Regions from separate parts of the Homo sapiens genome. Here all the other regions are linked to region 2. Evidence: fine-mapped expression QTL. A gene starts in region 2. Each other region holds a variant in brackets. All regions are shown on one strand. Distances are from middle to middle. Region 1 overlaps STIMATE-MUSTN1 (STIMATE-MUSTN1 readthrough). Region 2 holds the start of STIMATE-MUSTN1 (STIMATE-MUSTN1 readthrough). Region 3 overlaps PBRM1 (polybromo 1).

Region 1 (7,842 bases), 58 kb after region 2:
AGTTCTGTGTAGATAAACCCCCACTCCTCATCCCCGAATGCCCACATGAGACCAGCCAGAAGCTTTGAGAACAAGTGGCTCAGCTTGGCCTCCTTTGGGTTTTATTTGTGTTTGGATTTTATTTAAGAAAATAAGCCAAGGCTTTTCAGTGCTGTTGTCTTTTAGGGGTGGTTGAGGTGTGGGATTTCTGTTAGAAAGTGGTCTGGGGCCTCATTGCTGGTGTCTATAATGAGCATCCACTGTGTTCACCCCTCCAGCCCCCTGAAGCCCACACTCCACTCTCCCGGTGGGCACTGCTTGCCTTGCCCTGGCTTGGTGGCTGTAAGCCCACTGCACTTTGCAAGTCCACACTGAGGGGAAAGCTGCCAAAGCACCAGATGCTTAATGTGGTCTCCAAGGGTTCCTTGTGGACAGTCTCATCTGGGAACCCTAGGCATGAGGTGCTGCTCCCATTGGGCTTTGGAGGAAGCGTCTTAAGCTAAGGCTCCCTCAGGGCCTATGGGTACCACCCACCCACCCCAGGCACACTCTCGGTGGCCTCTCCCTACCTCACTGAGTCTGCTTCTCTTTACAGGTGGCCCTGTTGAATCCCATTGAAAACCCAGACTTGAAGCTGGCCATCGTCATGCTGATCGTCCCCTTCTTTGTCAACGTCAGTGCCATGTTGCATTTTTATCCCGATTTGCTCCCTGTCTGGCAGGGTTCCTGTCCAAAGTTCTGAGTCTGACAGAAAGCTCACCTGTAGCCCTCAGGTCTTTTTGCGTGACCATTTGCCACCTCTCCCACCCCCAGACCTGGAAATGGCAGGATTACCCCCTCAAAAGGCAGGGCCCCATACCAGGGCTCCCGTCCAGGATGGAGGGGCCTGGGAGCTTTGTCTTGTCCTCCCTGCCGAGGGGCCTCCCACCAAGAAGCCCCACCCATGTGTAGCGCCAGCCTCTAGTTCAGGATTGTTCCAAACGTACCCATCGTTCATTCCTGACCACGGATCTTGAGAAACTCCCGAGCACAATGGCTCGAAGTTAAGAAACAGAAGTGGTGAGGGAAGCTGGGACAAACAGATGACAGCAGGGTGTGCCGGCCACCCACATGGAGTCTGTGGGGAGGGGCCTGGAACGCGTGTCCAGAGACCTTGCTTCCAGGCCCCAAACAGGCTGTTCCCCCTAGTTACCACAACAAAAACCCGTCAGGGCACGTTCCTTGCACACTCTGATCAGAAAACTGAACCCGAGGATGTGGAGACTGGGAATCTCTTTCTAAGCTTTGGGAGAGAGCAGGGTGATTGGATTGGGTTTTTCTTTCCATAGCTCTGGATCTTATAACCTGGAATGGGAGTGGGCGGATGGGGGCTGTTCGGCTTTGCTTTGAAAAATGGTTTATCCCAAAGTAACCTGCACTTTTCCTTCCCACAGGCTTTGATGTTTTGGGTAGTGGACAATTTCCTCATGAGAAAGGGGAAGACGAAAGCTAAGCTAGAAGAAAGGGGAGCCAACCAGGACTCGAGGAATGGGAGCAAGGTCCGCTACCGGAGGGCCGCATCCCACGAGGAGTCTGAGTCTGAGGTAGGGCCTCCCTGACTCTCCAAGGGCCCAAGCCGTCGTATCGCTGGCCCAAGGGGGTCTCTGGTCTCATGTCTGTGTATGTTCTTCCCTTGAGTGCAGAGTCACAGTGCGAGCCAGAGGGCAGGAGAAGAGGCTGAGCCAGAGATGAGCGAGGGGCAGACAGCTCTGTCCAGCCAGGACCCATTCCCACTGTCCCTTGGGCCTGCCTAGGGCAGGAGGGCAGAGCAGATGGGAGTGGCTTGCCTGCGACAGTTCCTCTGTCAGTGGAGATGACAGACAGGAGAGGGAAGTTCTGCCTTGTTTGGTGAGCTGGCAAGGACCGTCATGGGCCTAATGGTTGATCTTCAAGCATTAGGATATTTGAATCTCTGCCCAACACTAAAGAGCAAGGGAAGTGTTGGCTCAGACAGCTGGAAACTTCTAAAATATAGGGGTAGCCAGACCTTGCAGGAGGAAACTCATCCCCCCCTTATTTTCTGGTCTTCTGAGTTCAAGGGTTTGGACCTCAGGGAAGAACGGTGGCCATGAATAGCAGCCCTGAGGCCAGGATATGTGTTCTGGCGGCCCCGCAGCACTCACCCCACATCTGCGTGCAGGGCCAGCTCGTGGGAGGCATGGGAGGCCTAGGAAGTGTGCAGGTGGGAGCTGCAGAAAAGCTGAGACAAACGTCTTCCCCGGAGAGGCTGTCAGACACGTGGGTGAGGTGCAGGTGGACACATAAGTATTTCGTCATGACACCGTAATATGTTCTAAGATTGAGGCATAGGCAGAACCCAACGAGGGCCCTGGGACAGCCTGGAGGGAGTTTCAGAAGACGAATAGATAGTAGGACAGAGGGGAAGCCGTGTCTTCTCTAGGTGCTTGTCTCTAGAATCTGGCCAGCACCTGTCATATGAGAGCTTGGTGAACATTAGGTGAGTGGCAAACAGTGTTATGGGCAGAAGCAGCAGCTCATGAGCATTCACAGTCACATGGTTTGGTGTCTGGGCCATAGTGTGAAATGCACTGTGGCTTGTATTCTGGAGCATAGGACAGAAGGACAAGAAGTGAGGCACAGGCTGAGCTAGATCGGCAATGCCCTGTGATCCAGGCTGAGGCATTGGGATGTGCTCGTACAGGCGGTGAGGAGCAGTGGGAGTGTGGTGGTCGGGACCGAGACTAGAGGCAGGAAGCCCCGCAAGGGAACAGTGCAGGGAAGAGGAGGTGAGACTGCCTGCCCTGCCCTAGAATAGGAGTTCGTGTTTCCCTGCATAGGTGGGCTTTGGACCTCCTGATCCCAACCTAGGTGGTTCCAACCTTTCCCTGGTATTCAGAGGTCTAAGGAGCCAGGCAGGCGGGCAGCGGATGAGTGTGTTTGCCCCAGCTGCATGGCTGAGTCATTCCAGGGCCTTAGAACAGCAAAGTGCCGCTGTTTGTCTTCAGCAGTTACAGAGTTGGCTCAGAGCAGCCACGCTGAACTCCCCCTGCCCACAGATGCTTTCTCTTCCTTTTGAAAGGGGCTTTTCAGTCTGCCTCTGCAGTATTTAAGGCAGCTTCAACAACTGCATGTGTCATGGTTGAGCTTTTTTTAGCCAGGGTGACCTTAGGCTGCAGATCCCTGCTGAGTTTGTCCTGATGGAGGTCGGTTCCCCTGGAGGTGGACTGAGAAGTGGGGAGCATTAGCAGAGGAAGGGGGTCTGTCGACTCAGTGCTGGCTTCAGTAGCCCATGAGTGTCCTTGGAGTGAACATGGCCTGTGGAGGCTAGCACGTCTCATTGAGTACAGGGAGCTTCCCCTCACTCTCTTGTAAAGAAACATTAAGACTTGGCAAGGCATGGTGGCTCACGCCTGTAATCCCAGCACTTTGGGAGTCCGAAGCAGGTGGATTACTTGAGGTCAGCAGTTTGAGACAAGCCTGGCCAACATGGTGAAACCTCATGTCTACTAAAAGTAGCAAAAAAAAACAACGAACCAGGCATGGTGCCACGCACCTGTAATCAGCTACTCAGGAGACTGAGGCAGGAGAATCACTCGAACCCAGGAGGCAGAGGTTGCAGTGAGGCGAGATCGTGCCATTGCACTCTAGCCTGGGTGACAGGGTGAGACTCTGTCCAAAAAAAAAAAAAAAAAACATGAGACTTGAAGGGCCCAGGGTCCAGGGAGGGCAAATGAAGAAGGCCCTGCTGGGGGTGACTCAGGCCCTGCCTCTCTACTGCCTCAGATCCTGATCTCAGCGGATGATGAGATGGAGGAGTCCGACGTGGAGGAGGACCTCCGCAGACTGACCCCCCTCAAGCCTGTGAAGAAAAAGAAGCACCGCTTTGGGCTACCCGTATGACACATTCCCATGCTGGGGGTGACGGGAGGGCCCCGCCAGCCGCTGGTGTGCAGAGGTCATCCCGCAGCATCGTTCCTTACCCTCTCTCTGCCCTTCCTTTCTACCTCTGCTCCTCTTGCTGTCTCTGCCCGCTCTCGCCTGCCCCCAGACTACTGTGACTTAAAAAGAGGGAAGAGGAGCCAGCGCCCGAGGGGGCCACTGGCGGCTGGAGGTCCCCATTCAGTTGCACTACAAACACTGACCAAATATGCAAGGAAGGAGCTGTGTTTGTTTGTTGTCGTCCCAGACAGTGTTGTGAGGGACCTGAGGCCCTGCCCCGTGTCCGACCACCGAGTGGCAAGGTGGAAGGAAGCACAGGCACACAGACCGTGGGTGGGTCTCCTCACCGTGGCTGTGGGCAGTGCGAACACATAACACCCTCGGGCTAAAAGTGACTCGTTGACCAAGTTGGAACCGGAATGCTTTCTTACTCAAAATGGCTTTTGTAACTATTGATTTCTGAAGCTGGTTTTATGAGTTGTGACA[G/A]TGTTACCAGGTTGGGGGTATGTGTTTATTTCCTACAAAGTACTTACGGGACTAATGGGCAAAACAGAGATTTTTAAGTCTTCCGTATGCTGTTTGACTTTTATATTTTTAAGTTATATTTTCATACTATTGTATTTAAAAACTCTTTTTAGTCCCCAAAGAAATGGGTTTATTTGCCTTTCATGGGGTGTGGGCTGGCAGGAGGAAAAATCGGGAGTTTTTTATTTGGAATATTATTAGATGATGCCCTATGATAAGATGAGACAAATGATGGGGAGGGAAGGAGGATGGCCCTTCTCTAGAATCAGCAAACCCAATGGTTCTGTGAAGGTCAGACCCAAGCTTGGAGCAGCTGGTCTGGATGCAGATCCAGGAGCTGCAGAGTGTGGAACAGGAAAGGCTCTGCCCAGGGCCCATGAGCTCTAGCATTCCTGCTGGCAGATTAGAGATCTTAGTTAAATTTGACCAAGAAAGGAGCTTAGCTAAGAGGTCTTTGTTTCCAGAGGACCCAAGACTACCAGACTCCTGTGCAGTCTGCCTGTCTGCAGAGCCTCCAATCACGGTTTAAAGTGGTCTTGGCCTCCCAGCCCCCACTGCTGCAGCCTTCAGAGCCAGCCTCTGGACTCAGCGCCAGGAGCCTCCTCTCCTGCTGCCCTGGTACCTGTCATCCTAGTGTCACCTATTTGTTTTGCACAGCATTCTGGAGAACATGTGCCTCACAAAGTGATCCTGTTTTTCTCACCCTCCAAAGCTGAGGTGGCTAAGGGAGGCAGGGGTGAGAGAGCTCACTCTCTAAACCACAGGCAGGGCAAGGTGCTTCTAGGCCGTGTCCCCTCCCTGGGGAATGGTCACTACTCCTCAGCATGGCCACAGGCCCCTGTGGTTTTGGGAGTTTGCTGAGTGACTGTGGAATGGGCTGACCCCAGCCGTTTCCCTGCTGTGGAAACAGCAAGGTAGGGGCACTGCTTGGTGGTTTGTCAAGCTCAGAGGCAGCCACGGATGGTTAGGAACAGGAAGCCACACTGCTAAGGTGTGATGAGCTAGAAGGGAGACATCCTGGACTTCAAGTGAGACAAGTGCAGAGGAGGCCACTCCACTTAGGACCTTCCTTTTAGACCTGCATGAGCACGTGTTTCACTTAAGCACATTGGGTCCGAATTGGGCGCATGAACCCAGCTGTTAAACCAGGTACCCTGGGACTGCCCTCTGCCTCTCAGAGCCCTACCTGTCCTGGACTTGAAGGCGAGCATCAGGCAGGCCTTCTCAGCCCATCTTCCACCAGGAGTGCAGAGCCAGGGTGCTGAGAGGAGCAGGGACTGTAACTACAGTAGGAGGCAACTTTGCTGGTGTCATTCCTGCTCGGATTGACTTTGTGCTCCCTCCCATCCACAGCTATGGTAGCCAGTATTTCCCCAGCAGCTCTCTAGTGGGGAAGAGTGGCTAGAACCAGGCCATTCTCAGTCGAATTTAGGAAGACCAAGACTCATGTTCCTGACAGGACGGTCATTCCCTCATGGCATCACTGACTCAGTTCTAATTCCTCCCCTCCTGTTTCATTTTGGTTTGAACAACCTGTGCCTGCAGCTGTTTCTTCCACCTTCCTGGAGCTCACAATTGGAGCTTCATGTTCAGTCTTGAGCTCCTAATGTTTCCAGACAGGGCAGGGGATAGGAGAGCCATAATCTATGAAAGCTGTGAAACAAACCCTGGGTTATATAGATCTCAGATGGTCTCATCTGAAGGCTTTGCCCACTTCCCAGTGAGCAGAGGGTTTGGGGAACAAAGAGGTAGCTGAAGAGTGGTGGTTTTTCCCTGTATCCTGATTTTCAGAAAGGGCTTTAGTCTCTGAGCTGTGGCTAGTAGCTGGCTGGCTGACCAGGGGACGGGGGTCTAATAGGGTGTCTGACCATAGGACACCTCTCGTGTTTGGCCTTCCCTTTCTTGTGTGTTTGTGTGTGTGTGTGCACGTGCACGTGCACACACATGTACACACACAAATCTGTATCCCCAGGAGTGCCTCCTGCAGTCACTGGGGGCTCTTCCGTGGTGCACCATCCCATGAGAGCAGATCAGAGGGCTGTGGTCAGGACTTCCTCCCGAGCTGCCCTCCCTCCCTGGGATGAGTTTCCTCTCCACCTGCTCCAAGGTGCCTTACGAGGTGCAGCTCTTCACCTGGCCACATGGCATCCATCACCGTGTTGAGAAATGGTGGGACGTTGGCTGGATATTGTGTGCTATGAATCTGATTTGTCCAAATCTGGACCTCAGCCAAGCCACCTGTGGTGGAACCTTGCAAGTCAAGGTCATGAACAAATTTCTTGTAACTATTGGAAATAAACTAATGAGGTAGAACTGTCATATCCAAATGGAAGAGGTGGTTGGTACTGTTACTTCCTTTTGCTGTCAGAGGGTTGTTGACAATGGCAAGGGGGGATGTTAGTGAGATCCAGGTGGTGGTGGCTTCTTGGTCCACTCAGCTTGCACACATGCAAGAGGAGGGTCTGTGGCCCCTCAGCCGTGCTGGTGGCCTCCTTCCTCAAGCTTTAACTTGTGCCCTCCCTGGCAACAGGGAGTCATGGGTTAATGTCACCTGTCATGCCTCTTTCTTCAGGGAAAATATTAAAAGGCTCAAATCCAAGCTGTGACTTCCCTTAGACAGTGTAAGCCTGTAGGGTGCAGCCCCAAGTTTATGTCCAAAGGCTGCCTCAGAACCCTGGAGGGAGCAGCGCCCAGCTGGCAGCTCACTCTGCCCTTGCAGTTCACTGGCCTTTTCGCAGCCAGGCTAAGATAGGCAGTGCAAGGAGCTTCCCACTGGCCAGAGCAGCTGCCTTGTAGAATGTGGGGCTGGCTTTTAGAAGTTTCACACGCTTGCAGCTAAGAGTGCAGAGCTCTCTGTTTTACTTCGTGAAACATTAGCAGCTCTGAGGGGCTTGGCTTTTGGTAAGGGACTTATGGTCTGACTTGCCACAAGCACCTTGAGCTCCTGGGTTGGTTGGTGGTTGGTTGGTTGGGTTGTTTTAAATTTGATTTTTCTTTTCCTGAAGTTTGTTAGAAGTCAGACCTATGCAAGGAAAACCATGGCCCACTTCAGCAGCCATCCAGTGGGGGTGCTTAATCGGTGGTGGTAGGATTCATGGAAACGTTTTTTTGAAATGAAAGAGAAGATGATGTACTTACATTGTAAAATGGTTTACAATAAAGTTTGGCATCTTATTACAGTTTTTTTTAAAAAGAAACCATCACATTTGTGGTTGTGGTTGTGGGTTCTCTGGAGTTGAAACAGCTTGGCAGGGTCAAAAAAGATTCCCCTGTGAATTAGAAGGTTCTCCCCAGGGACCAGAGTGAGAAGGAACCTTACGAAGCCTCATGGCAGGAGTGGGAGCCAGCAACTGCCCAGTGAAAAGCCAAACATGCTCTTGCCATGTCCATCTCCACTTC
Region 2 (7,842 bases):
CTTCCAGAGGACCTGGATACACTTTACTTGCTCTCTAGTACCAATTCAGTCACGAATGTGGTACCTGAATACAATTTAAAAGCTTTAGGAGGCCTTAGGTAGGGTGGGACTCAGAATCATTTCCCTCTCTCAAGCCAAAAAGTGTTTCTGAGGGACACATAGAATATCAGGCAATCTAGATGGGAACATTTGGGAAAACTATCACAGGCAATTATATTTACTTGGCACCTATATCACCAAAGATTGTTCTATTTGAGACACCATTTACTGGTTTAATTGATCAACAGTGGAACACACCCTGGATTTGAACTCTGATCCTGTATATTGAGGATGTGCCGTGTGTGCACACACCAGTTCAGAAGTGTTCTGTGTTATCAGTAGGAAATCTGTTGGTCTTATGAAGTTAAATGAGTAGAAGGCATCACTACAAAAAATGAAGTACAAATCTTGGTGGGGACCAGATGCCCCCTTTGCAAGCTTGGATTTCCTTGCTCCTGGGTCCACTGTAAGCAACCATATGTTTGTCATGGTGCTGACTCAGAAATCGTAGGACAGAGAGCCTCCTGCAAAACCAAAAAGAAATGTTACTTTCCTGCGATTATAATTCTTCCTTGACTTTGTTCACTTTAGATGTTTTACTAGTGAGTTTTGATGACTCCCACCCCTTATGTGAGAATGTGCATACTTTGGAAACTTGAATTTATCCAAACAAGCTACCTATGACTTAGAGTTTGGGCATAAGTTTTAAATTCAATGCTCAGTCGAACTGGATCTGGTTCCAGGCCCACTCCAAGGGTGGTTTCAGGGGTGTTTTTTCAGTACTTGTCCCAGACCACACAGGTAGCCTTGTTTCTGAGGGCAGCTTTATGGGGAGGTGTAGAAGGTGGTGGGCAGCAAATGCACTGCAGAGTCATTTTCTTGGGTATGGTGTTTAAGAAGCCTGAGATTTTCACAAGAACCAGCAAAACCAGGAGTGGAGAGTTGGGGAGATAGAGAAGTAGGCCTAAAACTCCCTCTTCTTGAGTCTTTTTTGACTTAATACACCATTGGGTCTGTCCTGGTGCTATGGCCTATCACAAAGGACTGTTTTAAGAGAGAAGCAAGCCACAGCCTTGCCAGATAAGTCTCCAACACCAGCAGAAAAGCACGGACCCTGATCTGTGGGAGGCAAGGGTCTCCCATTATTTCTGGAGGCAAATGGTGCCTTCTAGTGAAATGGTGCCACCATTTGCTGATGGGGGTGCCTGTTCTCAGGATGTGTGGAAACTCAGGCCTGAGGGTTTCTACATGGTTTATTCAATCTAACTGCATACCTAGCTTGGCAGAATGGAGGTGGACAAAAGTGCTGAAAGGATGAGGGTAGGCTTTTAGGGCAAATCAAGTCACAAAGCAGATGATTGAGGGAGGTTACAAAGCTTAGGCAGAGTTAAAGTTGGGCAGTCCATTAGCTCCTTTTGCAAGAATCTCTGGAGACGGTAGTTTGAATGTTTCCCTTGAGATTTCAAGTGCTCATTTCTTTTCCCCTCCCTTCCTTTCTTCCTTTTTTTTTTTTTTTTTTTTTTCATTGAATATTCTCTGAAGACAATCAGAGGCCTGCCAGGGAGGGACTCCTGGCTGGTTCCAGCACTGTCCTTAGGCCTCTTTTTAATACTAACTTGTTGGAACTGATGCACTTTGTTTAATGTATTTTACCTTTTTTTTTTAAAGCTGCTCATTTAGAACAAAATCAAATGCTTATTGCATTGTATCCTTCCTGCTTGCTGTTTTTCCTCTTAATTTCAAAAGTTATGCATTAAAGATAAAAGTACACTTAAGAAGTATGCACAAGAATACCTATTAAAATAACTACCATCAAGTTTGATGGTATAACTTCAAAGGATTAAAAAAAACTATTTTGGATTAATATTTTGCGTGTTTTTTTTGTAAATATGATTGTATATAAACTGGTGGTACGTTATGACAGTTTTAAGTGGTTGTGAGAAAACTAAAGAGAACAGGTCTTAAGCTATGTTTAACCTTAACTTTGTGCTGATTTGACAACAAGGAAGGCATTTTGGCCAGAGTAAATTTTTTAAAACTCTTTCCAGCGGGACCTCAGAGAATCATTTCCAAATAGATGAGAAGTTCCTTCCTACTTTAATAAAACTCCGGAATTCTTCCCCCTCTCTTGCTGTCTCATCCTTTACCTTCTGGATTTAGGTGCTTTTTAATTCCAGTTCAGGAAAGATAGGAAGAGTAGAATTTCCCCACAGCAACCTTGCTCCTGACATTGGGGATTCCGCCCCTGATCTCTGAAGACTGCTTCTTGTTTGTTCCTCTGTGAGCCTTAAGGATTCCTCCACAGCTGGATGTGCAGAACAATTCTTTGTCAAAAACATCACTTTTCAGCTCTATGTCCAATTTTCCTTGAGCTGTCTGTGTCTTCAAGCAATCAATAGTCTCCTTATGCCCAACCACAATCTATTCTGCTTTAAGACGTAGCCTCTTGTTTGGTTCTCTCTAAACATGTACTGTTAACTGTTGAGCATCCTCATAAGATCCCTCTTAGACTAAAAGACAGTCATGCAATTTTAATTTTCCCTTATCCATTTATTTTTTTAATCTGATTTTCTGTATTTGCCCACGGCCAGTACTTGTGGAGAGTTTAAAATTTTATAAATTAAAATTCCATTTAAATTAAGCATTTTGTCGCATGTTCTCTGTACCAGGCACCATACTGAATTTGAATTGAAGGGTAAATAAAAATAATTCCTGCCCTCAGGAGGCTCACACTTAGCTGTGGGAGAGAGACATGTGTACAGCTGTCAAATTTAGCAGTCTGAAAAGTTTTGGTGGAACAGTACACACTAGGTAATGTGGGAGCAAGAGGGAGAGGGAGGTCAGAAAGGCTTTGACACATGAGGAGCAGTTCATGGAGCAGGGAAAAGGGAATGGCATCCATGCAGCTAGAATGCTACATAAAGGCACAGAGGTGTGAAAATGTAAGAGAAGGCTGGAGAATTGCATTTTTATTCTCTAATCAGGTTAATATTCCTGTTCACCAAGAAAGCTTTTAGCTAGCATATAACCCTCTTAGGTAATTGGAATTTGGGGGGCTATTTAATAGGAAACTTTTTCCTAGAGATGATATTTACCGTTGAAAACACGTAGCTCAGTATCAACTGGACTTACACCATATGTTCACTGACATTCTGCAGCAGGAAGGTCAGCGGCTCTAGAGCACCAACAAGAAGGTATCCAGAGAGAGCCCAGATTGGGCTGGGAGAATGGGTGAGTGTCAACTGGACTTACACCATGTGTTCACTGACATTCTGCAGCAGGAAGGTCAGCGGCTCTAGAGCACCAACAAGAAGGTATCCAGAGAGAGCCCAGATTGGGCTGGGAGAATGGGTGAGTGTCAACTGGACTTACACCATGTGTTCACTGACATTCTGCAGCAGGAAGGTCAGCGGCTCTAGAGCACCAACAAGAAGGTATCCAGAGAGAGCCCAGATTGGGCTGGGAGAATGGGTGAGAGAATGGGGACTCAGGGTCTTGTTAAAGGCAGAGCACAGGTTCTGAGAAGTTGGAAAGGGTTAGATGGGAGTGTGTGTGTGCAGGGGGATGTTGGAGCCTGGAAAATACCAACCATTTGTCTTTTACACTCTAAAGGTAGTTGTGCTCCCCAAGTGAATAAGGTGGGACATGTGCACGTCAGGTTTTCAGTGTGAAACCTGGTATATTTCCAAATGAAAGTGATTGGATTCAGGTGACCATTTAAATTATGTCTATGAAAAAAGAAAATAGACTTGGGGCCTTGATAAGCCTTTAGCTAGGGAAGTAGGAAAAAGACTCAAATGTCTGGGTTGGAGGGAAGACTCCTGTACTCAGTCTCAGATTGTTTTCCTTATTCACTTGCTTCAGAATAATCCAGGCTGCAAACTATTGGGACCCACCCCAGAACTACTGAATCACGATCTCTGAGGGTGGAATTCAGGAATGATGATAATTTCTCCAGGATATAGGGATTTTCCTTAGAGGGAAAAATAATTTGACCACAGGCCGTCCCAGCTCCTACCTCCGGACCTGGAGCTCGTGATTCCCAGGCTCTCATTCCGGTCTGCGGTGGCCGGCTCACCTGGCCTGTCTACCTGCGGGCGTGGCGGGGTTGGAGAGGGGAGCGGGACCCGCGACCCCGCCCCGTGGCCCGGCCGGAGCCCCGCCCCTCGGGGGCGGGTGGGGAGAGCTGCCGCGGCCGAGGCCCGCCCCAACCTTGGCTGCGCCAATCAGGCACTGCGATCTCAGACGTCGGGTTACGCGCGGCGCGGAGTCGGCGGCCGGGCGGAGGTACCGGCTCAGGCTTGGGATCCCGGCTGCGGGTTTGGCGGCGCTGCGCCGGCAGGCAGCGAGGCCGGGCGGGCCCTGGGCCCTCGCGCCCCTCCCGCGAGGCCTGTCATGCAGGGCCCCGCCGGGAACGCGAGCCGGGGACTGCCAGGCGGGCCGCCCTCCACAGTCGCGTCCGGGGCGGGCCGCTGCGAGAGCGGCGCGCTCATGCACAGCTTCGGCATCTTCCTGCAGGGGCTGCTCGGCGTCGTGGCCTTCAGCACGTTAATGCGTGAGTCTGGGACCCCCCGACCCTCCGGAGGCCCTGCGCGGCAGCCGCGGCCCGGCCCCCCTGGGGGCCCCTCCTGCGCGGAGAGTTCAGGCCTTGGGACCCGAATTGCTCCTCCCCCGCAAACCCAGGCTGGGTATTCCTGCACTAGGGGTAGCCCGAGCCCCTCACCTACTCGCTGTGGCCTCCAGACAGGAGTGACCCTTCCCCTTTCCACCTTAAACGTCTGTCTTTTGAGACGCCAGTCTAAAACTCGCCTACCTCCCACCTTACCATCTCGAATTGTTACCCCACTTCCCAGCCTGGAATCATGACCCCCAAGGGTGACATCCCCTTGTCCGCCCCTTCTCAGGGGCTCTTCGTGCTTAGAACCCACATCCCTCAATCCCCAGTGCGATGCTGAGCTCTTTTCTGCCCCTTCACTCTTCAAGGATCTGCCTTCTCCGTTCACATTTAAATCCTGCTACTTTGCATCCCTCTCAACACCTGGAGTGTTAGGGCCATGCCTTCCGTTTCCCAGTACCCGCCTCCCTCTCCGTGGCCCTTCTTCCTCAGCTTTAGTTTCCCTTTTGTCAGGGTAGGACCCACCCAGTCTGCCTTCTTCCCCAGATCCCCTTCCTCTCGTTTCTTCCGGAACAGGCCCACCTGTTCCATCTCTGTCCCAAGCTTTCCTAATAAGCCGCATCTATAGCTTCCCCTGGCTGTTCCCTTTCCACTTTTATTCTTTATATTTTAAGTTTCCTTTTCCATTAAACTTGGGCACCTTAGTGGCTGAATAGAGAAGGAAGCCCCCACCCTGTTCTCATGTGTGCTGATGGGGGGTGGGGGGGGGCTTCTGTTTTTCATCGTGTGCATCCTTCCCTTATTAAAGTAACAAGAAGTTTTGCTCGACATGTAAGCCTAGGAGTGCCCTTGTGACTGCGTTTTAGGGGGAAGGAAAGGTTATAACTATCTGTGCAGAGTCATTAATTCCAAAAATGACTTGTTCTCAAAACTTCCCCACTGTGCTTGTGTGGACAGAGTGGAGAGTTCCTGCAGAAAGTATGCTTTGGGGTACTCAGGAGGGATCTTGCAGCTGTGTGCCTTTGTCTTGTGGGGTCCAGTTGCTGGAGTGGCCACCTTGCTTGTTTATAACTTGGGGTTTCTTTGAGTGAATTCTCTCAGGCTTTAAGTAACCCTGAAGAGGCTCTGATCATGGATACCGCGTTCTTCTGGTGGCCTGTCCTTGATAAGTCTTATAAGTGCCCAACTGTCTATGTTTGCCACTTTTTCTTTCCTTTTTAGTCCCAACTTGCCTTGCTTTTTCTCTGCTAAACAAATACCCACTTGTTCCCACAGTAATAATTTGTGACAACTTAGCCAAAATCCGCTGCTGACTTGGGCGCATGTACTGTACGTGTGTGTTTTCAAGACATGGTGAGTGGATCTTCATACCCCTCCTACTTCTCTGTCCTCCAGACAGCCTTCCTTTCTCTCTGAAGGAAGTGTAGGTTAAATTTTTCTTTTGCTCCCTAACCTGAGGTTTCTTAGCCTAGCTCTGGCTGTTTCCATAGGTTTGATTGATGCTGATGGCCCGGCTTGTCCCCTAGGGTTTGACACTTGTGATTCAGAGAAGGAAATGTGATGATGACAGGGCAGAGTTGCTCACAGCTGAGAAGTGTATCGGGTTGAATGTGTTCTGAGTGGAGTCTTCAGGGACATATTCACTTCTTTACTTAATCTTCAGCGTGAGCACATGTGCAAATCCCACTGTGGTTGGTACTTTCTGTGTGCAGAGATTGAACTAGAAAGCAGTCTCTTGTTCACTGTGAGGCTTGACGTGGACGGAGCTTGTGGAAATGGCTGGTGGGTCCTGGGGTGATGTGGGTAGGAGTGATGGGGAGAAGAGCTGGAAAGGCTAGAGCTATGTCTGCCCTGACACAGAAATGGAGGTGAGAGCAAGAGCCTCCTCCCCCTACCTAGAAGCAGACAGAGCAGGCCAGGGCAATGGTACTCTGGGAGCTGGACAAGAAGAAGCCCACTGACTGGGATGCAGTCAGGGTGGGGCCCTTCTTATCTCTCAGATTTCTTGGTCCTGTTGAAATAGAACTGCGAGGCTTTTCCTTCTTGAACTACTGGGAAGAGGAAGAAATCTCTAAGGTGGAAGAGGAACGAGATCAAGGTAGCCTTAAGGAAGTACATCTGCGAGCCATTTGGCTTTGTCCTGGGCTATTAGTCCTCCGTCCTTCTCAGTCTGGCGGAGCTGCCAGGAGGGGCATCTGTTGAAGGCCAGGCTCCCCTGACGAGGGTCCCCCTCGCAGCCCTGAGGGAGGGAAGTCTTAGTGTGTGTTAAGGTGAGGCCACTCCATCCTTCCTCAGTTCTGTTATCTTCAAACATTTTAAATACCAACCAGTCTGTTCTGAGCAGTTTAAACAGCCGTTGTCCTTTGAGGGGCTGTTTTTGAGATCACAGTCTTTTCCCTTCTGAGTACCCGTGGCCCTCGAGGCAATGGGCTCACTGCCTGTCTTCTGGAACGCTTCCCCAGTCCTGATGGCCAACACTATTGTTTCCTGTTGGACCAGCTCTGACTGTAGAATGAACCCATTTCTCTGCAGACAAGCTGTGAGGTAGTTTTCCTTACTTCACCTCCCTGATTTCAGTGACCCCTCAGACCACTGTCTTTATGTTCCTTTTTCTATCCAGAAAAATCACTTTTTTCTCCACTTACACGTTGCCTTGTTTTTGTTTGTTTGTTTCTTTGTTTTTAATCTGGAGAGGTTTGTCCTGAAGGAAGATTACTTATATATATTAATGTCTCTGGGGAGGATTCTGGTTCTGCAAGAATTTCTCATTCTGGTGCTTTGATAGACTTCTTGCCTTACTATGTAGGGTTTATAGACCCTCTTGGTCCAGGCAGTTGAGAATGTATATGCCAGGTCATACATGGTAGCCCATTATTCAAGCTGCATAAACATGCAGACTGTTACAGGCACCACCCACACACATGTCCCAGTGTCAGCACTGCCTTGTTGAGTTGGCGGGCTTCCTAGAGGCTCCAGCTAAGGTACCCTGTGTACGCAAGGAAAGATGAACATACTCAGAGACAAGCTTATGAAGATACTTTCCACTTAGAGTTTTCTGAAGTGTCTGCTAGGTATCTGCATAGAAAGAAACGCTTTAAACGAGGGGGCTTTGCCAAGCAATTCCTCGTTTTGGTGGTTTTAAGCAATTCCTCGTTTTGGTGGTTTTGTCTATAGTCTGTGACTTGACA
Region 3 (7,842 bases), 220 kb after region 2:
GATCTTATGAATAATTTCAGTATGTTACATCATATATTAATTCAGCAAATAACTGTGTGACTATCATGTGACAAGCACTGTTCTCATGGTTGGGATATAGCCATGTGGAAACAAGCCCATTTTTCACATGGAACTTAGATTCCAGGCGGGGGAAGTAGAATGTAAACAAGTAAACGAATAAAGAATAATGTATCCTTAGCTAGTAATAAGTGCTAAGAAGAAAATTTTGGGTGATTTGGGCTGTTTTGGCCTGAATTCGCTGGAAGAGAGTTCCAGACAGAACCAGTGCAGAGGGGTTGGGTCAGGGATGAGTTTTGTGTGTCTTGGTTACAGAGCAGGGGATGGTCAGGAAGGAGAAGGAAACTGGCAAGCTCCACCCATTCAGAGTATGTAGGGCCCACACAAGCAATGTTTGGAGTTTAGATTTTATTCTCTGTGAAGTGATAAACCCTTCTGTCAGATGGCTTTAAGCAAGAGAGTGATAAACTGATTTAGTTTCAAAGAAGAAAACCCTTCAATTGGATGACTTTAAGCAAGAAAGTGATGAACTGATATAGTTTAGAAGACAAAATCACCAGGAGCATAAATCTGATGAAAGATACCAAAAAGTTAGTCAACTCAGTTGTTTGAAAGGAGACATATTGTCAGCATATTTCAGACTTTAGCATGTTTGGTAATATTGAGAGTCATCATTTTTCTTCTCTACTTGCCTTTTATTGAAGAGTAGAAAATAATTCTTATGTCTACACTGGCTTTCTGTTCACTTTTTTAGTGATTTTTTTCTCCTTTGCTAATGTGTAGATTGCCGTGTGCCATGAACTCTATAATACCATCCGAGACTATAAGGATGAACAGGGCAGACTTCTCTGTGAGCTCTTCATTAGGGCACCAAAGCGAAGGTGAGTTCGAAGCACATCAGTACAGTTGCGGGGGATTTGGTCCAGAGTCCATGTGTATTAAAGTGTTTGGAAATTGAGCTTTTTGTTGGCAGGAATGGCTTAAATGATACTGGGGTCCAATTTTAGTCTTTAGTCTTTAGTAATCAAGCTGTAGTGAAGCTTTTTTTAAATTAAAAATCTGTTGAGCCAGGCACAGTAACATGCACCTATAATCCCAGCTACTTGATTTTTTGAGCCAGGCACAGGAGCATGCACTTGTAATCCCAGCTACATGGGAGACTAAGGCAAGAGAATTGCTTGATCCAAGGAGTATGACACCAGCCTGGGCAACATAATGAGACCCCGTCTCTTAAAAACAAAAACAAAAAAAATGACCTATGCGGAAAGATCTCTTGAGGCCAAGAATTTGAGACCAGCCTGGGCAACATAGTGAGACCCATCTCTACAAAAAATTTTTTGAAAAATTAGCCAGGTGTGGTGGTGCTCACCTATAGACCCAGCTACTAGGGAGGCTGGGGTGGTAGGATTGTTTGAGCCTGGGAATTTGAGGCTGCAGTAAGCCATGAGTGTCACTGCACTCCAACCTGGGTGATGGAGCAAGAGCTTGCCTAAAAATAAATATTTAAAAAAGAGTACTGACCAGGCACAGTGGCTCACGCCTGTAATCCCACCACTTTGGGAGGTCTATAGGTGGGCAAATCACCTGAGGCCAGGAGTTCGAGACCAGCCTGGCCAACATGGCAAAACCCTGTCTCTACTAAAAAATACAAAAATTAGCCAGGTGCAAGGCTGGGCGCAATGGCTCATTCCTGTAATCCTAGCACTTTGGGAGGCGAAGGCGGGTGGATCAGCTGAGGTCAGCAGTTTGAGACCAGCCTGGCCAACGTGGTGAAACCCCGTCTCTACTAAAAATACAAAAATTAGCCAGGCTTGGTGGTGGGCGCCTGTAATCCCAGCTACTTGGGAGACTGAGGCAGGAGAATCACTTGAACCCGGGAGGTGGAGGTTGCAGTGAGCCGAGATCGTACCGTTGCACTCCAGCCTTGGTGACAAGAGTGAAACTCCATCTCAAAAAAAAAAAAAAAAAAAAAGCCGAGCATGGTGGTGGGGCGCCTGTAATCCCAGCTACTTGGGAGGCTGAGGCAGGAGAATTGCTTGAACCTGGGAGGCAGAGGTTGCAGTGAGCTGAGATCCCGCCACTGTATTCCAGCCTGGGTGATAGAGCCATTCTGTAGGTTGCCTTTTCATTTTGTACGGTGTCCTTAGATGTACAAAAGGTTTTAATTTTCATGAAGTTTATGTTGTCTTTTTCTCTTGTTGCCTGTGCCTTTGGTGTCATATCCATGAAATTAATGCCAAATCCAATATCATGAAGCTTTTCCCCTATGTTTTTGTATTAATCAGGGTTCTCTTGGACAGGACTAGGCTGCAAATTTTCCAAACTTTTATGCTCTGCTTCCCTTATAAAACTGAATGCCTTAAACAGTACCCAACTCACCTCTTGAATGCTTTGCTGCTTAGAAGTTTCTTCTGCCAGATACCCTAAATCATCTTTCTCAAGTTCAAACTTCCACAGATCTCTAGAGCAGGGGCGAAATGCCCCAGTCTCTTTGCTAAAACATAACAAAAGTCACCTTTACTCCAATTCCCAGCAAGTTCCTCATCTCCATCTGAGACCACCTCAGCCTGGACCTTATTGTCCGTATTGTTATCAGGCTTTTGGTCAAAGCCATTCAAGTCTCTAGGAAGTTCCAAACTCCCACATTTTCCTGTCTTCTTCTGAGCCCTCCAAACTGTTGCATCCTCTGCCTGTTATCCAGTTCCAAAGTCGCTTCCACATTTTCGGGTATCTTTTCAGCAGCGCCCAACTCTACTGGTATCAATTTACTGTATCAGTTGGTTTTCACACTGCTGATAAAGACATACCCGAGACTGGGAAGAAAAAGAGGTTTAACTGAACTTACAGTTCCATATGGCTGGGGAGGCCTCAGAATCATGGTGGGAGGTGAAAGGCACTTCTTACATCAGTGGCAAGAGAAAAATAAGCAAGAAGCAAAAGTGGGAACCCCTAATAAACCCATCAGATCTCATGCAACTTAATCACTATCACGAGAATAGCACGGGAAAGACTGGCCTCCATGATTCAGTTACCTCCCTCTGGGTCCCTCCCACAACATGTGGGAATTCTAGGAGATAACAATTCAAGCTGAGATTTGAATGGGGATACAGCCAAACTGTATTGGTTTTCCTCTAAGAGTTTTATAGTTTTAGCTCTTACATTTAGGCCTTTGATCCATTTTGAATTTTTATAAGTAGTGTTTAGGTAAGGATCCCGCTTCATTCATTATTTTTTTTTTTTTTTTTTTTTTTTTTTTTTTTTTTTTTGAGACGGAGTCTCGCTCTGTCGCCCAGGCTGGAGTGCAGTGGCGGGATCTCGGCTCACTGCAAGCTCCGCCTCCCGGGTTCACGCCATTCTCCCGCCTCAGCCTCCCAAGTAGCTGGGACTACAGGCGCCCGCCACTACGCCCGGCTAATTTTTTGTATTTTTAGTAGAGACGGGGTTTCACCATTTTAGCCGGGATGGTCTCGATCTCCTGACCTCGTGATCCGCCCGCCTCGGCCTCCCAAAGTGCTGGGATTACAGGCGTGAGCCACCGCGCCCGGCCCCCGCTTCATTCTTTATATGTGTGTATCCAGTTTTCCCG[G/A]TATCGTTTGTTGAAAAGACTGTGCTTTTCTCATTGAATGGTTTTGGCGCCTTTGTCAAAATTTGCTTGACCGTGTATGTGAGGGTCGTTTCTAGGCTCCATTCTATTCCATTGGTCCCTGTGTCTGTTTTTATACCAGTAGCACACATTTTGATTACTGTGAACAACATATTCAGTGGCAAAATACTTAAAGCTTTTCCTCTAAGATCACGAACAAGACAGAGATGCCCACTTTCACCACTTCAACACCTTGTTCACTGTGGAATAAATCCCACCTGGTTATGGTATATAATCCTTTTAATATCCTGCTGAATTCAGTTTGCTAATATTTTATTGAGAAATTTTGCATCAGTATTCATAAGGGATATTGATCAGTAGTTTTCTTGTAGTATCTTTGTCTGGCTTTGGTATCAGAGTAATGCTAGCTTCATAGAATAAGTTAGGACGTGACCTCGCCTCTTCAATTTTTTGGAAAAGTTTCATAAGGCTTGGTGTGTTAGTTCTTGAAATGTCTGGTTAGAATTCATCAGTGAAGCTATCAGTCTAGGGATTTTCTTTGTGGGAGATTTTTTATTACTGATTCAGTCTCCTTACTAGTTATAGGTTTACTCAGGCTTTGTATGTCTTTAGTAGGTTGTGTGTTTCTAGGAAATTATCCATTTCTTCTAGTTTATCTAATTTGTTGGCATACATGTTTTCCTAGAACTCTCATAATCCTTTTTATTTTTGTGGCATTGGTTGTAATGTCTCCTCTTTATGATTTTAGTTATTTGCATCTCTTTTCTCCCTTACTTCTTCCCTCCCTCCCTCCTCCTTTCTGTCTTTTTTTGAGACAGGATCTTGCTTTGGCACCCAGGCTGGAGTGCAGTGGCAATCACAGTTCAGTGCAGACTCAACCTCCCGGACTCAAGCAGTCCTCTCACCTGATGCTACCATACCTGGCTAATATATATGTTATATATACGTGTGTATGTATATAGTAAACACATAAAATATATATATTGTATATATAACGTATTTTTTATTTATATATGTAAAAATATGCTGGATTCTTACCTAACGCTACATACATATTAAAAAATAACGTATGTAATGTTAGGTAAGGAGATATATGTGTGTGTGTGTGTGTATATATATATATATATATATATTTTTTTTTTTTTTTTTGGTAGAGACAGGGTTTCCCTGTGTTGCCCAGGCTGGTCTCAAACTCCTGGGCTCAAGTGATCCTCCTACCTTGGCCTCCCGAAGTGCTAGGATCACAAGTGTGAGCCACCACACCCAGCCTCTCTCTCTCTTTTTTTTTTTTTTTTTTGAGATGGAGTTTCGCACCAGGCTGGAGTGCAGTGGTGCGATCTCGATTGTGGCTCACCACAACCTCCGTTTCCCAGGTTCAAGCGATTCTCCTGCCCCAGCTTCCCGAGTAGCTGGGATTACAGGCATGGGCCACCACGCCCAGCTAATTTTGTATTTTTAGTAGAGACAGGGTTTCTCTATGTTGGTCAGGCTGGTCTCAAACTCCCGACCTTAGGTGATCCGCCTACCTTGGCCTTCCAAAGTGCTGGCATTACAGGCGTGAGCCACCGTGCTCAGCTCTTTCTTTCTTAGTTAATCTAGCTAAGTGTTTACCAATTTTGTTGATCTTTTAAAAAAACCAACTGTTTAATTTTTAAAATTGTTTTTCTATTCTCTAATTTCGTTTATCTGCATTCTATATATATATCTATATATATATTTTTTTTTTGAGACAGTGTCTTGCTCTGTTGCCCAGGCTGGAGTGCAGTGGCGTGATCATGGCTTATTGCAGCCTCTGCCTTCCAGGTTCAAGTGATTCTTATGCTTCAGCCTCCCAAGTAGCTGGGATTACAGGCGTGTGCCACCATGCCTGGCTAATTTTTGTATTTTTAGTAGAGATAGGGTTTCACTTTGTTGCCCAGGCTGGTCTTAAACTCTTGACCTCAAGTGATCTGTCCACCTCATCCTCCCAAAGTGCTGGGATTATAGGCATGAACTACTGCACTGGCCCTCCTTTCTATTTATTATCTACTGCTAGCTTTGGGTTTAGTTTGCTCTTCTTTTCTCTAATTCCTTGAGAAAGAAGCTTTTTTTTTTTTTTTTTTTTTGAGATGGAGTCCCACTCTGTTGCCCAGGCTGGAGTGCAGTGGCACAGTCTTGGCTCACTGCAACTTCCACCTCCTGGGTTCAAGCAATTGTCCTGCCTCAGCCTCCCGAGTAGCTGGGATTACAGGCATACACCACTATGCCTGGCTAATTTTTTTTGTACTTTTAGTAGAGACGGAGTTTTGCCATATTGGCCAGGCAGGTCTCGAACTCCTGACCTCAGGTGATCCACCCGCCTCAGCCTCCCAAAGTGCTGGGATTACAGGCATGAGCCACTGCACCTGGCCGAGAGTGAAGCATGTTTTTTAAATTATTTAATTTTTTTGTTTCATTTTGTTTTTTAACACCTGGTTCACATAGGCAGTATAAAAATTAATAGTTCTTATGGCTGGGCGCGGTGGCTCATGCCTGTAATCCCATCACTTTGGGAGGCTGAGGCGGGTGGATCACTTGAGGTCAGGAGTTCGAGACCAGCCTGGCCAACATAGTGAAACCCTGTCTCTACTAAAAATGCAAAAATTAGCCGGGCGTGGTGGTGGGTGCCTGTAATCCCAGCCACTTGGGAGGCTGAGGTGGGAGAATTGCTTGAACCCGGGAGGCGGAGGTTGCAGTGAGCTGAGATTGCACCATTGCACTCCAGCCTGGACAATAAGAGCAAAACTCCGTCTCAAAAAAATTAAAAATTAATAAAAAAAATTAATAGCTCTTAAGACTGTATTGAAGTTGTCACAGTGATAGTTAAAAGGGATCAGTTTTTTAAATTACACAGAGAGGCATCTTGCACACAACTTCCTATGGAAGGTATGTTCCCCTAACTAGAACATCTTTCCTCTCTTGCTGTCAAAATATAATCACTATTCTCTTCAAAACTCTGGCAATTGGCCAGGCGTGGTGGCTCATGCCTGTAATCCCAACACTTTGGGAGGCCGAGACAGGTGGATCACCTGAGTGCAGGAGTTCGAGACCAGCCTGACCAACATGGAGAAAGCCCATCTCTACTAAAAATACAAAATTAGCCGGGCGTGGTGGTGTGCACCTATAATCTCAGCTACTCGGGAGGCTGAGGCAGGAGAATCACTTGAACCCAGGAGGCAGAGGTTGCAGTGTGCGGAGATAACGCTGTTGCACTCCAGCCTGGGCAACAAGAGTGAAACTCTGACTCAAAAAAAAAAAAAAAAAAAAGCCAAAAAAAAACCTCTGGAAATTGAAGTTATTTGTTCTGAAAACGTATATGAGTGTGTTAGTCAGAAAACTGGTGCCCAAATATTTCCACATTCTAATCCCTGAAACCTGTGAATATATTGTGTTACATGGCAGAGGGGAATTAAGTTTGCTAATCAGCTGATCTTGAATTGGAGCGGTTATCCTGGATTATCCATGTGGGTCCAGTGTAATCACAAGGGTCCTTAAATGGGGAAGAGGGAGACAAGTTCAGTCAGAGATTTGAAGATGCTGTAGTGCTGGCTTTGAAGATGGAGGAAGGAGACTACAAGCCAAGGGATGCAGGTGAGCTCTAGAAGCTGAAAAAGGCAAGGAAACCTTTTTCGCTAGATGCTCCGTACTAGAACATCCAGACGGCATGCAGCCCTGCTAATACCTTGATTTTAGACCAGTGAGACCCATTTTGGACTTCTGACCTCTAGAACTAATATAATAAATGGGTTTTGTTTTAAGCCCTGAAGTTTGTGGTAATTTGTTACAGCAGCTGTAGAAAGCTGTGAGTTAACTAAAGATTTAGATTCATTCATGATTGTTGATGCTACAGTGGGTAGTTACCAAGCTCTAAGTTGAACTGGAGGCAAATTTCTCACCTCAACGAGCAAGCCACTGAGAATGCAGTGTCATCATCCTGAATTAGGAGAGCCCTGTAAATTAGCAAATTAGCCATGGCCAAAAAGGAAGCATTGTTTTTAAAATGAGGTAACTGTCTCCATATTTGAGTTGGTTTATCAATAATAGTCTTCTGAAAGTTGTCATTTAATTAGCATAAAGTAGTAAAAGCATGTATTTATTGTTTGCCACATTCTAGACACAATACCAAGCATTTTCCCAATCATATCTTATTTAAAATTCTGAGTTATCACAGTTTATAGGTGAGAACTTGCACAAGTTCTTGT

The links. PIP is the estimated chance that this variant, and not a neighbour inherited with it, causes the effect. A credible set is the group of variants that fine-mapping cannot tell apart.
Region 1: its variant is the best candidate, but not a certain one, in a credible set for the expression of STIMATE-MUSTN1 in pituitary (GTEx, PIP 0.80).
Region 3: its variant is the best candidate, but not a certain one, in a credible set for the expression of STIMATE-MUSTN1 in subcutaneous fat (GTEx, PIP 0.55).

Annotation. Positions count from the first base shown.
Region 1 is chr3:52,836,531-52,844,372 of GRCh38, reverse strand. It overlaps STIMATE-MUSTN1 (STIMATE-MUSTN1 readthrough), which reads left to right. Exons shown (of 10, transcript NM_001198974.3): 6 at 575-652; 7 at 1,413-1,562; 8 at 3,763-3,873. It overlaps STIMATE (STIM activating enhancer), which reads left to right. Exons shown (of 8, transcript NM_198563.5): 6 at 575-652; 7 at 1,413-1,562; 8 at 3,763-7,640. The coding sequence ends at 3,879. Among named protein-coding and RNA genes, the nearest start is that of MUSTN1, 5.4 kb to the right of the region's middle. RefSeq lists enhancers at 4,069-4,570, 6,754-6,923. The variant G/A (reference allele first, on the strand shown) is at 4,405.
Region 2 is chr3:52,894,043-52,901,884 of GRCh38, reverse strand. It overlaps STIMATE-MUSTN1 (STIMATE-MUSTN1 readthrough), which reads left to right and starts at 4,337. Exons shown (of 10, transcript NM_001198974.3): 1 at 4,337-4,594. The coding sequence starts at 4,435. It overlaps STIMATE (STIM activating enhancer), which reads left to right and starts at 4,337. Exons shown (of 8, transcript NM_198563.5): 1 at 4,337-4,594. The coding sequence starts at 4,435. RefSeq lists a silencer at 4,075-4,784.
Region 3 is chr3:52,671,557-52,679,398 of GRCh38, reverse strand. It overlaps PBRM1 (polybromo 1), which reads left to right. Exons shown (of 32, transcript NM_001405607.1): 3 at 802-899. Among named protein-coding and RNA genes, the nearest start is that of PBRM1, 10 kb to the left of the region's middle. The variant G/A (reference allele first, on the strand shown) is at 3,605.